Homo sapiens: one gene and its partner. The main gene of each other region encodes a partner of the protein of the gene in region 2 in a complex. Each region holds a gene or a part of one and is shown on either strand. Other genes may lie near its edges.

What was found. The genes of interacting proteins can lie anywhere in the genome.
Region 1: the proteins of MKI67 (region 2) and NIFK are in contact, whole or in part, in an NMR structure (PDB 2AFF), measured with the Homo sapiens proteins. Residues at the interface, in NP_002408.3 of Homo sapiens: Thr9, Ile10, Lys11, Arg12, Ser13, Pro18, His19, Phe20, Pro21, Ser23, Leu24, Arg31, Gly32, Ile33, Glu34, Cys35, Asp36, Ile37, Arg38, Ile39, Gln40, Leu41, Pro42, Val43, Val44, Ser45, Lys46, Thr66, Asn67, Ile91; in NP_115766.3 of Homo sapiens: Val228, Asp229, Ser230, Gln231, Gly232, Pro233, Thr234, Pro235, Val236, Cys237, Phe241, Leu242, Arg245, Gln248, Val249, Leu252, Asp256, Lys257, Asp259, Glu260, Ile261, Val262, Phe263, Lys264, Gln265, Pro266, Ile267.

Annotation. Positions count from the first base shown.
Region 1 is NC_000002.12:121,733,876-121,741,380, forward strand, and holds the start of NIFK (MKI67 FHA domain-interacting nucleolar phosphoprotein), read right to left. Parts: upstream 3,001-7,505; 5' UTR 2,976-3,000; coding exon 2,871-2,975; intron 1,876-2,870; coding exon 1,738-1,875; intron 1-1,737.
Region 2 is NC_000010.11:128,096,154-128,102,439, reverse strand, and holds the end of MKI67 (proliferation marker protein Ki-67), read left to right. Parts: intron 1-738; coding exon 739-1,182; intron 1,183-3,184; coding exon 3,185-3,250; 3' UTR 3,251-5,781; downstream 5,782-6,286. UniProt on the Homo sapiens protein: Protein that associates with the surface of mitotic chromosomes and acts both as a chromosome repellent during early mitosis and chromosome attractant during late mitosis.

The DNA.
Region 1 (7,505 bases), on a different chromosome or scaffold from region 2:
CTTACCTCTTATTGTGAGCCAAAGTCTGCAAAATACTCTTCTAGAAAATTCTGCCTATACCTGTACAAAGATTGTTCCTAGCAGCTTAATCTAAAGAGTTAAAAATATTAAAAAACCTAATGTTCGGGCTGGGCACAGTGGCTCGCTCATGCTTGTAATCCCAGTACCTTGGGAGGCCGAGGTGGGCGGATCATCTGAGGTCAGGAGTTTGAGACCAGCCTGGCCAAAACAGTGTTTAGTAGAAACACTGTTTCTACTAAAAATACAAAAATTAGCCAGGTGCAGTGGCCGGTACCTGTAATCCCAGCCACTCAGGAGGGTGAGGAAAGAGAATCACTTGAATCTGGGAGGCAGAGGTTGCAGTGAGCCGAGATCGCCCCCCAAAACAAAACCTAATGTTCAATAGGAGGGTGGATAAACTTTAGTAACCTAAGTAATGAGCAATGATGATAACAAAGGCAATAGAGTTACATGGATAAAGCTCAGATTATTGAATACAAAAATTCAGCTGAAGAATGATAGAGTAATATAATTTTAAAATAATACCATATGTACATTTATATATGTACACATATGTATTCTAGTACATATATATATAGTAAAAACTTATATATAGCAATGAAAACTGAATTTGTGGCCGGGCGCACTGGCTCACGCCTGTAATCTCAGCACTTTGGGAGGCCGAGGCGGGAGGATCACAAGGTCAGGAGTTCGAGACCAGCCTGGCCAACATAGTGAAACCCCGTCTCTAGTAAAACACACAAAAAATTAGCCAGGCATGGTGGCAGGCGCCTGTAATCCCAGCTACTTGGGAAGGTGACGCAAGGAGAATTGCTTGAACCCGGGAAGCGGAGGTTGCAGTGAGCTGAGATTGTACCACTGCACTCCAGCCCGGGCGACAGTGCAAGCCTCAGTCTCAAAAAAAAGAAAACTGAATTTGTGAATTTAATTCCCTAATTAAAGAAGTTGAAGAGCACTGGGAAGGGTACAAAAGGGACCTCAATTCTACCTACAATCTATCTTTACGACAACTAACAGATGATGGATGTGCACCCTATCCCCCACATGCTAAATCAAATAGGTGTCTATGGCTACAACCAATTAAAGTTTATGTGCGGGGAAAGAAAAGAAAGTGGGTCACTCCTCCACTATTGAAACAAGCTATGTAAAGCGTTTTCTCATTAGAAGGCAGGTATGACACAAATAGTAATTATACTTATATAGTGTTTATTGTGTACCAAGCAATCCTCTAAAGACTTTATATTTAACCTTTGACTAAATACTCCCAGGAAGTTTTACTTATATTTAACAGATCACAACACTGAAACATGGTAAGGTCATATCACTCTAACTAGTAAGGTGTAGAGCCTGACCCCAAACCTCAGCAGTCCAACTCCAGAGTCCTCACCTTTAACTATTCACTATATAAACCTTTGCTATTATAAGGATGCTTGTACCAAAGGCTAACACAAGAAAATGTATAAACCTGGGCCTCATACTAAAGCTCATTTACCAGGACTGTCAATTTAATGTAAGGATTTGGAGAAATGTAAAAAACAAACTTTTACAATAATACTGATTTTGCTCCTGTAGCTGTTTCAGATTCTAAACCTCCTCCACTCTCCTTTTTGGAATGAAATCTGATAAGCAATAATGTATGCGTGAACGTGCTCTTTAATGTCAAGGATAATACACATTTGAAAAACAAAACATTAAATCCAACTGCAAAAATCTTACCCTTTTACTTCTGGACAGCCTGAACCGTGTCACAGTGCCAAACTGGGAGAAATATGAAAAGATCTGGGTTTCGTCAAGTAGGTTAGGTAGGTGGCGCACATAGACTACTCCAGGAGTAAGTTGTTCTTGTTTTTTTCGCTAAAGACGTAAAGACCAGGTAAATTAAATATATAAATAAGAAAATCACATTGTAACAAAACCCCTAGCCCTCGGCCCAAGAACCTATTCTGCATTTCCACTTACCACAGTAGTAATTAAAGAACTGGCTGTTTAGTGTTTCTCTCCCCACAAAGGCCATGGTCAAGCAGTAGTCAACTATCTTTCCAGCCTGGCATCCCAGCACCCAGTATAATATTAGAGCTCAATAACTATGTCAATCAACGGATAAGCAAGGACATCTTTGAACAAGCCATTTTAGATCTTCTGCCCAGAGAACTCTACATAAACGTAGGCTTCAATTTGGTATGCATATTACTGTTTACTCGCACTTCATCGAAAAATTTTCGATACGCTTGTTAACTCTCACGGTACAGATTAGCCTTTCAACGTCTCAGTCATCATAGCCTTACCTCTGTAACAGGAACTTCTAAGTTTTCCTGTGTATTTTATGCTAAAAACCACAGAAAGTATAAGCGATGTCAGGGGCCCTAGTCAGCAAGTGGAACCTGGCAAATACTCTATTTTAATAACTCCCAGATCACCAACCCGGCATACAAACTTCCCGAATGTGTTAAGTCTGGGGCTCCCATTTTTGGGGGAAACGCGGAAGCGTGACAGCTCTAACCCGGAGATAACCTGTGGTATAGGAGCCTATTCCCTCCAGCTGGTTCTTTCTACTGCTTCTGTCACCCCAATACTTCCCCGTTACCCTCCACATGAAGGCTCCAGGGCCTCAGCGGCCAAACCCCTCCATCATTTACCGAACAGCGTAAACCCTTTCGTCTCGGAAACCGTGGCCTGCAAGCTTAAGAGGTCGGTCCCTGATTCGGTCGAATCCACTTGGGAGACCCTGGAGGTAATGAAGGCGAGCACGAAGGCAAGGGGCGCCCGGGCCGGAAACCGTGCAACCCCAGATACCCTCTAGACCCGGTCCATCGCCCCCGCTCGCAGCCTGGGCCAGGGTGCCTGCTCACCTGGGTTATGCGCTTGCGAACCTGCGCCACCTCCTTTTGAAACTCGACATCTTCCTGCGGATTAAGCGACAGGATTGGCCCAGCCGGGCCAGAAAAAGTCGCCATGCCAAAAGCCGCCGACGCTAACCACGCGGCGCTCCCGGAAACGTCGGGCTCCCAGCTCCCCCGAGGCGGAAGTAGAGGCAGGACAGGGGCGGGGCGAAGCGCTAAGGCGAGGCGAGGCGTGGCGAGGGGCGGGGAGGGCCATGAGTCGGGCGCGGGGTTGGAGCAGGAGTTGCCCGGAGAAGCGGGGGCGGGGCACGGGGTGTGGCGAGGCGCGGGGCGGGGCATAAATTGCGCCAGGGGCGAGGGCGGGGCACGAGGTCGTGCCGAGAGACTGGGAGAGGCGTGAGTCGCGCGGAGGCGCGACATGGGGCGTGACGAGGAGCGGAGGGCGGGGCGTGAGTAGCGCCGAGGCGCGGAGGCGGGGCGCAGGGGCGTGCCGAGGCGCGGCAGCGGGGTCTGGGGCTGGGGCTGGGCCGTGGGGAGCTCCCGCACCCTCGGCTGTCGGGGCGCCGGCTGGCTTCGCTTAAGAGTGCCTGAAACAATTACGTTCACGCCTACTTTCAAAAAAGGTCTAAAATAAATTCCAAAACAGTACCTGTGTCCTTGAGATGCTGCTCTCATTCCTCAATTTGCTTATTATTATTATTATTTTTTTTTGAGACAGAGTTTCGCTTTGGTTGCCCAGGCTGGAGTGCAATGGCGCAATCTCGGCTCACTGCAACTTCCAACTTCCGCCTCCCGGGTTCAAGCGATTCTCCTGCCTCAGTCTTCCGAGTAGCTGATTACAGGCGCCCGCCACCACTCCCAGCTTAATTTGTACGTTACCACTCCCAGCTTAATTTGTATGTTTAGTAGAAACGGGGTTTCACCATGTTGGCCAGGCTGGTCTCGAACTCCTGACCTCAGGTGATCCACCCGCCTCAGCCTCCCAAAGTACTGGGATAACAGGCGTGAGCCACCGCGCCCGGCCCTAATTTGGTTATTCTTTCACTCACTTGTGTGTGAGCTCTCCTGTGTGGCCCCGTCCGTCCGCGGCCCTTGGAGAACTTACAGCCTGAGGGCAGCATGGCTGCTTTAAGAGACCAAAGAGGCTTGTGGGGGAGAGGCACACTGGGTGGCGCCGGAGGGTCCCCCTTAGGAGGTGGCGTTAGCACCGAGGCCTGAAGGCTAAAGAGCGGGGTGTGGAGAACCGAGCGCCTGCCGTCCGCTGGACCGGACAGGCCTGCACAGTGTTCCTAGGTCTAGAAAGAAGGACGCGGCAGTGGGGTTGGAGCCCAGCACAGGAGGGAAGAGCTGCGAGGCGGCAGGCTGGAGCCCCATGACTGTGTGTCAAAGTATGAAACTGGGGTTTTGTAAATGCGAGGGGATGGGCGGGTTTAAAGCGAGGCTGTGGCTGTTTGCATCTTTCTTTTCTTTTTTTTTTTTTGAGACGGAGTCTCGTTCTGTCGTCCAGGCTGGAGTGCAGTGGCGCGATTTTGGCTCACTCACTGCAACCTCCGCCTCCTGGGTTCAAGCAATTCTCCTTCCTCAGCCTCCCGACTAGCTGGGACTACAGGTGCACACCACTACTCCCGGCTAATTTTTGTATTTTTAGTAGAAACGAGGTTTCGCCATTTTGGCCAGGCTGGTCGAGAACCCCTGACCTTAAGTGATCTACCCGCCTCGGCCTCCCAAAGTGCTGGGATTACAGGCGTGAGCCACCGCACCCGGCCTGTTTGTACCTTTCAAATACTATTATACTAGTGAGTAACTGAGTGGAGAGGAAGGGTGGGGAGTGGATTGCCGAGGAAGCAGGGAGGTGAGGCGAGAGCGACAGATCAAGCACAGCTGGTGTCAGGGGATAGCTGCGGCCGTGTTCTGGAAGCCGTGAAGGCGGCCCAGGGTGTGTGTGCCCGAAGAGTGGCCTGTGGGCCTGAGGTGGAGGCCCTGGGAGGGAGTGCCAAGCGAGGCCAGCCCACTTCCTCTGACAGACGTGCCTCCCACGCTCACAGTCTTCGCCTCCTTCACCCCTGCACCCTCCGGCTCAGCGCCACCGTCACCCCCAAGGGGGCATCCCTGACCCTGTAGCAAAGTCAGTTCTTCCAGTTAAGCGCTGTCTTCCCATTGTGTTTTCATGGGTAGGCTGGATTTTCGGGAGTGAGCGAGCAAGAGCAATTTGATTCTTTTTCAGGGCTGCCCCTTTCCATGGGCTTGTTCTTGCTCCCCCCAGGATGAAATCTTGGGGAGAGCTCCGCACTTGTGATTGCTCCTCAGATGTCAGTCAATAGAAGCATGTTCCACGCGTTCAAAATCTAATATCAAATGTCTCCTCTCCCCAGCTCAGTGTCTCTGGCAGAGAAATCCCCAAAGGGGAGCACAGTCCACATCGTCTTTATTCTTGGCTCCACTTTCTCTGTACACCCCAGTTTCTGTTTTTGGGCTTTCCAGGATTAGGACAGGGAAGAGAGGGAGGAGAAAGCAGAAAGGGGCTCCTTGCTGGCAGGTGCCACGTGGCCAGGGAGTTTTAGAGGCTGCAAATGCCAGGTTGCTGGCACCTTGTCTCCAAGCACACTTTTGAGGTGTCCCTCACCTGGCTGCTCATGACTCTACCTGCCTGCCAGCCGAGGTCAGCTCTGTGCCCAGAGGCTCCTCCTGGAAGGGCCTTTCCAAGTGGACTTTATCATCCTGATCCTTTAAGAAGGGCCACATGTTTTGTCTGTCACTGCCATGGGATTGCTGCCAGGCAGGCCTCCTGGCTGGCATCACAGATGTTGGTGTATAAACCAGGTACAATCCCTGTATCCCCCAAATTCCAGAGGATGTAGATAAGTTCACTGGTTCCCTGAAGGTACCATCCGTGTCCTCGTGTGTGTGTGCGTGTGTGTGTGTGTGTGTGTGTGTGAACACTCCCCTCCTTCCTGAAGGTGGAATCTTGACATGTCTCATAGCTACTTAGGGGAGATGAGGATACAGGAAGGAATGACGGCAAGCACTTCTCTATGGAAATCCTTTTTCAGGTATTCCCAGTCACCTCCACCTCTATGAGTTCCTGGTCTTGCCTTACATCCCCCCAGGGGGGTAGTGATCCAAGGCTTCTCAAACTTGAATGAGCATGTGGATTGCCTGCACCAGGCAGGTGCTGATTCAGTAGGTCTGAGGTGGCCCAGGTTCTGTGTTCCTAACAAGCTTCCAGAAGAGGCCGATACTCCATAGACCACACTCCGAAGCAGGAATAGAGATTTGTGGCATTGATTACTGGGTCAGAATTCTGGGACAGAATGTATTCTGTCACCCTCAAAAGATTTGTTCAAGTCCTAATCGCTGGTACATGGGTACATGTGAATGAGACTGTACTTGGAGAGTCTTTGAGGATGGAATCACATTAAGATGAGGTCATGACCGGGCACGGTGGCTCACGCCTGTAATCCCAGCACTTTTGGAGGCTGAGGCGGGCAGATCACTTGAGGTCAAGAGTTCGAGACTAGCCTGGCCAACATGGTGAAACTCTGTCTCTACTAAAAATACAAAAATTAGCCAAGCGTGGTGGCATGTGCCTGTAATCCCAGCTACTCGGGAGGCTGCGGTGGGAGAACCGCTTGAACCTGGGAGGCAGAGGTTGCAGTGAGCCGAGATTGTGCCATTGTACTCCAGCCTGGCGACAGAGCAAGATTCTGTCTCAAAACAAAACAAAACAAAGATGAGGTCCTGTTGGGTTTGCGTTAGCTGTAAACCGTGACTAGTGTCCTATGAGAAGAGAGCATTTTGGGCGTGCACATATGCAGAATGCCATGTGATGGGCAAAGCAGAAGTTGGAGTGATGCTGCCACCAGCATCCACAATTGTGAGAGAATATGTTTCTGTTGTTTTAAGCCTTTCCGTTTGTGGTAAGTTATCCTGGCAGCCACAGGGAAAAACACAGTTGCTGTACAGGCTGCGTGGTCTGAGGACAGCACCGGTCCTGGGCCTGTCTTGGTATGTCGGGTTCTCGTTGCGTGTTAGGGCAGGTCCTGGAGGACCTCCGGGATGCTCACAGATGGATGCCAGGCCCCCTCTCCTCCTTCCCTCCCTCTCTCCCTTCCTTCCTCCTTCCCTTTCTTCCTTTTGATGTTTTTGTTTGTTTGTTTGTTTTTAATTCTTCCTTCTGATTTTGCATGTAGATGGGGAGCTACTGACACTTTGGGTGGGACAGTTCTTCACTGAGCTGGACCGTCCTGTGCACACTACTTTTGTACCCTCATCCCCTGCTCATTGTAACAATCAAGATGCCTCTGGGCATTTCCATACAGCCCCGAGCAGACTATTGAGTCCTCAGTGTGTGTCACCTGCTTCTCTTCCCGCACGAATCACCCAGGCCTCCTCCACCCCCCATGCCACCCCACCCTTATCACCTGTGGCCTGGAGCACCTATTGGGGGCCAAGCACGGAAATTGAGGAGGGCCGGTGGCAGGGCTGGGCAGGCAGCAGGGTGAGGCAGGGCACATGAGAGACCAGGAGGGAGAGGGCTCTCTGGGGTGGGGCTGAGGTTCCCCCTACTGCTCAGCCCTGTCTCCCTTCCCCCTCCTGTGTTCCTCTCCCTCCCCACCACTCTGCCTGGTCCCTGTGGGGTTGCCT
Region 2 (6,286 bases):
CCATGGTAAAGAATCTTCTTGGGACCTATAGAGGGAATAGACTAATATGGGAAAAGAACTAGTCAAACATGATTAATGCAAACTTAGAAGAGTTTCTCAAAAGCCAAATGAGTAATGTTCATCTTCAAATGTTTAAAAAATTGATCAGAGGATAGGTGGGTGGTTCAGTTCTATGTTCTGGATACTGTCACCAAGACCAGGACTGGGTTAAAAATCCTATCTATGTCACTATTTTAACTATCAGAACAATATCAATAAGGAATGTGTATTCTTGAGAAGGGGAAACTGTCTGGACTGTTAGATAGAGAGGCTCCCACTGCATGCAGAGAAGTTTGGGGAAACTCCAGAAATGGCAATTTCCTGTTCTGCCTTAGCAGTGATGGTTAAAGGAATAGGAATTCATTTACTCCCTGTAAATGAATGAATAACGGACCTTCTTTCTATAATGTAAACTGTAAAAATTAGATTTGATATATATCTTATTAGGCATTGTTATTGAAATTTATCCTGAATTCCTTATTTATAATTTGTCAGCAGAGACAGTCATTTCTCCATAGGAGCAAAGTACCAAGGCATTACCTTGACTATCCTAGATGACAAGTCTCTTAGACAATTCATCAGTGTGTGATTTTCAAATGATTTCTCCTTTTAGGTTACTGTTGATTGTGCTCCCTGTTGAATTTTGAAGTTTGTTTTACTAATTATTGGAATTTTGTGGATGTCTTCTCATTTCTTTAGGGAATATCCCTGCGCTCCAGACGCCAAAATAAGACTGAGGCAGAACAGCAAATAACTGAGGTCTTTGTATTAGCAGAAAGAATAGAAATAAACAGAAATGAAAAGAAGCCCATGAAGACCTCCCCAGAGATGGACATTCAGAATCCAGATGATGGAGCCCGGAAACCCATACCTAGAGACAAAGTCACTGAGAACAAAAGGTGCTTGAGGTCTGCTAGACAGAATGAGAGCTCCCAGCCTAAGGTGGCAGAGGAGAGCGGAGGGCAGAAGAGTGCGAAGGTTCTCATGCAGAATCAGAAAGGGAAAGGAGAAGCAGGAAATTCAGACTCCATGTGCCTGAGATCAAGAAAGACAAAAAGCCAGCCTGCAGCAAGCACTTTGGAGAGCAAATCTGTGCAGAGAGTAACGCGGAGTGTCAAGAGGTGTGCAGAAAATCCAAAGAAGGTAAGCCATTTACTGTTTCCCTGTTTTAAAAGACACAGAATGTTTTGATGTATTTTTTGCCCAAGGTTGCAAAGGCAAACAAAAAGCATTATCTTCAACAGCACTCTGCCAGCTCCCAGTTACATTAATGGAAGGAGCATTATGCTAAGACATAAATTTGGTCATTTTAGTTATATTTTGTTGTGTCTACTTTGGGAATTTCACTTCAAATAGCAAATTCACGTTATGAAGACTTTCTTCAGAAAGAAAAGGAATTTGTCTAGTGGCTAATTTCTGACTGCTTATGATGTACCTCATGATACAATTGTAGGTAGATGTCTTCAGCCTTTCTGTAGTTCAAAATCACCTCTTGAAACAGGAAAATTCTTTTTCCAAAAAAAACTATTGAAACAGAAAAATTTCCAAGGCATTCTTTGGAAAGGCAGAAGGAACAGAAGTTGGGATGTCCCTGAGACACATGCTCACTATGTGAGAGTTCCTGGTCAGTGGGGGATGCGTCTGCCCTCCAACCCTCCTCCAGCCAGAGACTATCTAAGCTAATGAACTTTAAGTGCTACTGAAATCACATCAAGTTGAGCCACTCATAATTACAAGCATGTGGACAAATCCATAAGAATGATTAGATTCCATTAGTGTTCTTCTGGGGAATACTTGGTTTAGCTAAAATAAAAATAGGTTGAATTGCTCCCTTTTTGTGAGCAATTCACAAAAATATAATATAAATTTAATTCTTAGCACACACAAAATTTGGACCTAAAACTACCATATTCTGAGTTCAGCAAACGAAACTCATGTAGCAATAACCTCTTCAGATACAGAATTCTGGCAAGTACAGCTGTCCAGACAGACCCTCTTCGGCACAAACTAGGAAGCTTCAACTGCCAAGAAAAGGAAAGATTCCCAGGTGTCCCCAGTACCTGCTGCATAGCCAGGCAGCCAGTGGAGGGGGAGGGCTTGTGTGTCTGGATGGTGGGCAGGAAGTCCTAGTGGGGAGATGCCCATAGACTGTTCCAGAGAGGGAAGAGGAGAGGCTCAAGAAGGGCACTGATGCCCACACAGGTGTCCTAAGTCAGAGACTGTACTTCTGGGGCAGGCTGGAAGCAGAAGACACCCGACAGTGCCAGACAAGGTCCTAGAAACCACAGGCACACCAGGGACGCAACAGCTGACGTGGGTCAGCACGTTCACCCGTCGAGTCTTACAATAAAACGCAGGCTCCAGGCGCTTACCGAATTCACAGTCTGGAAGGTGCTGCTTCCTCAGAATGAAACCAAAGAAGGGTGAAAGCGAATCTTTTAACTAGGATGATTCCTAAACACAGAGCAACCAGGCCCAAGGCTGAGCCAGGCCTGGTGTGTTCTGCCGGGGGCGTTCCAGCCTCTTCTCACACACAAGCACCCAGGAGACGCCCAACACACACATGCTCCTCTTTGCCGAGCTCTTCGGTGGGTGTCGGTAGTCCTAGAAAATGCATATATAAGATAGATTTTTTCCAGTAAGAAGCTTGTAGCCATGCTTTTCACCATGGTTCCTCTCCCTTAGCCAAGGGGTGAGAACTACTGCAAGAGTAAAGGCCAAGGCAGGTCTCCTGCATGCAAGTTGGGCATGCTTCTGTCTACAGGGGTTCCTTGGTTTAGGAGACCCAAAAGACTTAATCCTGGTTGGATTCACTTTTTCTGAGTGACATTTTTTAGTTTGTGAAAATGTGTGCATCGATGAAGAAATTTTATTATGAATTAGCTTAAAAATGCATTAGGAACTTCTGTATGAAAAGATCACATTATTTAAGTGTAAAAAAACTGCATAATAAAAGCAGTTCAAGTCAAGAAAAACAATGTTAATGGAATATATTTTAAAACTTATTTCCAACCTCAAAATTAATTTTCTGCAACTAAGGACCTGCATAATACCTAGTAAGCCTTTGGGGTTTTGCAGAGGAGGTCGATTCTAAAAATGGGTGTTTAAATTACTTAAGAGTTCTATTTTTTTTCTTCCCACACAGGCTGAGGACAATGTGTGTGTCAAGAAAATAAGAACCAGAAGTCATAGGGACAGTGAAGATATTTGACAGAAAAATCGAACTGGGAAAAATATAATAAAGTTAGTTTTGTGATAAGTTCTAGTGCAGTTTTTGTCATAAATTACAAGTGAATTCTGTAAGTAAGGCTGTCAGTCTGCTTAAGGGAAGAAAACTTTGGATTTGCTGGGTCTGAATCGGCTTCATAAACTCCACTGGGAGCACTGCTGGGCTCCTGGACTGAGAATAGTTGAACACCGGGGGCTTTGTGAAGGAGTCTGGGCCAAGGTTTGCCCTCAGCTTTGCAGAATGAAGCCTTGAGGTCTGTCACCACCCACAGCCACCCTACAGCAGCCTTAACTGTGACACTTGCCACACTGTGTCGTCGTTTGTTTGCCTATGTCCTCCAGGGCACGGTGGCAGGAACAACTATCCTCGTCTGTCCCAACACTGAGCAGGCACTCGGTAAACACGAATGAATGGATGAGCGCACGGATGAATGGAGCTTACAAGATCTGTCTTTCCAATGGCCGGGGGCATTTGGTCCCCAAATTAAGGCTATTGGACATCTGCACAGGACAGTCCTATTTTTGATGTCCTTTCCTTTCTGAAAATAAAGTTTTGTGCTTTGGAGAATGACTCGTGAGCACATCTTTAGGGACCAAGAGTGACTTTCTGTAAGGAGTGACTCGTGGCTTGCCTTGGTCTCTTGGGAATACTTTTCTAACTAGGGTTGCTCTCACCTGAGACATTCTCCACCCGCGGAATCTCAGGGTCCCAGGCTGTGGGCCATCACGACCTCAAACTGGCTCCTAATCTCCAGCTTTCCTGTCATTGAAAGCTTCGGAAGTTTACTGGCTCTGCTCCCGCCTGTTTTCTTTCTGACTCTATCTGGCAGCCCGATGCCACCCAGTACAGGAAGTGACACCAGTACTCTGTAAAGCATCATCATCCTTGGAGAGACTGAGCACTCAGCACCTTCAGCCACGATTTCAGGATCGCTTCCTTGTGAGCCGCTGCCTCCGAAATCTCCTTTGAAGCCCAGACATCTTTCTCCAGCTTCAGACTTGTAGATATAACTCGTTCATCTTCATTTACTTTCCACTTTGCCCCCTGTCCTCTCTGTGTTCCCCAAATCAGAGAATAGCCCGCCATCCCCCAGGTCACCTGTCTGGATTCCTCCCCATTCACCCACCTTGCCAGGTGCAGGTGAGGATGGTGCACCAGACAGGGTAGCTGTCCCCCAAAATGTGCCCTGTGCGGGCAGTGCCCTGTCTCCACGTTTGTTTCCCCAGTGTCTGGCGGGGAGCCAGGTGACATCATAAATACTTGCTGAATGAATGCAGAAATCAGCGGTACTGACTTGTACTATATTGGCTGCCATGATAGGGTTCTCACAGCGTCATCCATGATCGTAAGGGAGAATGACATTCTGCTTGAGGGAGGGAATAGAAAGGGGCAGGGAGGGGACATCTGAGGGCTTCACAGGGCTGCAAAGGGTACAGGGATTGCACCAGGGCAGAACAGGGGAGGGTGTTCAAGGAAGAGTGGCTCTTAGCAGAGGCACTTTGGAAGGTGTGAGGCATAAATGCTTCCTTCTACGTAGGCCAACCTCAAAACTTTCAGTAGGAATGTTGCTATGATCAAGTTGTTCTAACACTTTAGACTTAGTAGTAATTATGAACCTCACATAGAAAAATTTCATCCAGCCATATGCCTGTGGAGTGGAATATTCTGTTTAGTAGAAAAATCCTTTAGAGTTCAGCTCTAACCAGAAATCTTGCTGAAGTATGTCAGCACCTTTTCTCACCCTGGTAAGTACAGTATTTCAAGAGCACGCTAAGGGTGGTTTTCATTTTACAGGGCTGTTGATGATGGGTTAAAAATGTTCATTTAAGGGCTACCCCCGTGTTTAATAGATGAACACCACTTCTACACAACCCTCCTTGGTACTGGGGGAGGGAGAGATCTGACAAATACTGCCCATTCCCCTAGGCTGACTGGATTTGAGAACAAATACCCACCCATTTCCACCATGGTATGGTAACTTCTCTGAGCTTCAGTTTCCAAGTGAATTTCCATGTAATAGGACATTCCCATTAAATACAAGCTGTTTTTACTTTTTCGCCTCCCAGGGCCTGTGGGATCTGGTCCCCCAGCCTCTCTTGGGCTTTCTTACACTAACTCTGTACCTACCATCTCCTGCCTCCCTTAGGCAGGCACCTCCAACCACCACACACTCCCTGCTGTTTTCCCTGCCTGGAACTTTCCCTCCTGCCCCACCAAGATCATTTCATCCAGTCCTGAGCTCAGCTTAAGGGAGGCTTCTTGCCTGTGGGTTCCCTCACCCCCATGCCTGTCCTCCAGGCTGGGGCAGGTTCTTAGTTTGCCTGGAATTGTTCTGTACCTCTTTGTAGCACGTAGTGTTGTGGAAACTAAGCCACTAATTGAGTTTCTGGCTCCCCTCCTGGGGTTGTAAGTTTTGTTCATTCATGAGGGCCGACTGCATTTCCTGGTTACTCTATCCCAGTGACCAGCCACAGGAGATGTCCAATAAAGTATGTGATGAAATGGTCTTAAAACCCATGGTATTTTTATTATAGGGAGAGTGGGGAAAGAAACTAAGTGTGGGTGGGGCAGACAGGCCAGTGTAAGAGAGACTGGTTCATTACGTTCCATTTTCATTTCTACAAGGACTTGGCTGGATGGTCATTTTCTCTCTTGGCCAATAAGTCATCGCAGCTGCTTTTAGTCCTGCAGGAATGGCCTGCTGTATCTCGAGAACTACCTGCAACCGCAGCTGTGCCTGCTTTGTTGCAACAGAGGTGCTGAGTTGAGGGATGGGGATTTGACCCAGGGCTGCCCCAAGTCAGCAGATGAAAATACATGCCCTGACTTTCCTCTGGCAACCCTGATTTGACATGGATCCCGGGAGTGAATTTGCTGGCAAGTTCCAGGGGCAGTAGCCTGCGGTAGGTCAGTTAGTCCTGAAGAAGAGGCCTTTCTGTCGGAGAGAAAAGTTTGCAGGTGGGTGCATCTACCATCTTGAGAGGCTGAGGAGGGAGGGAGAGCCGTGCTCGGTGGTCA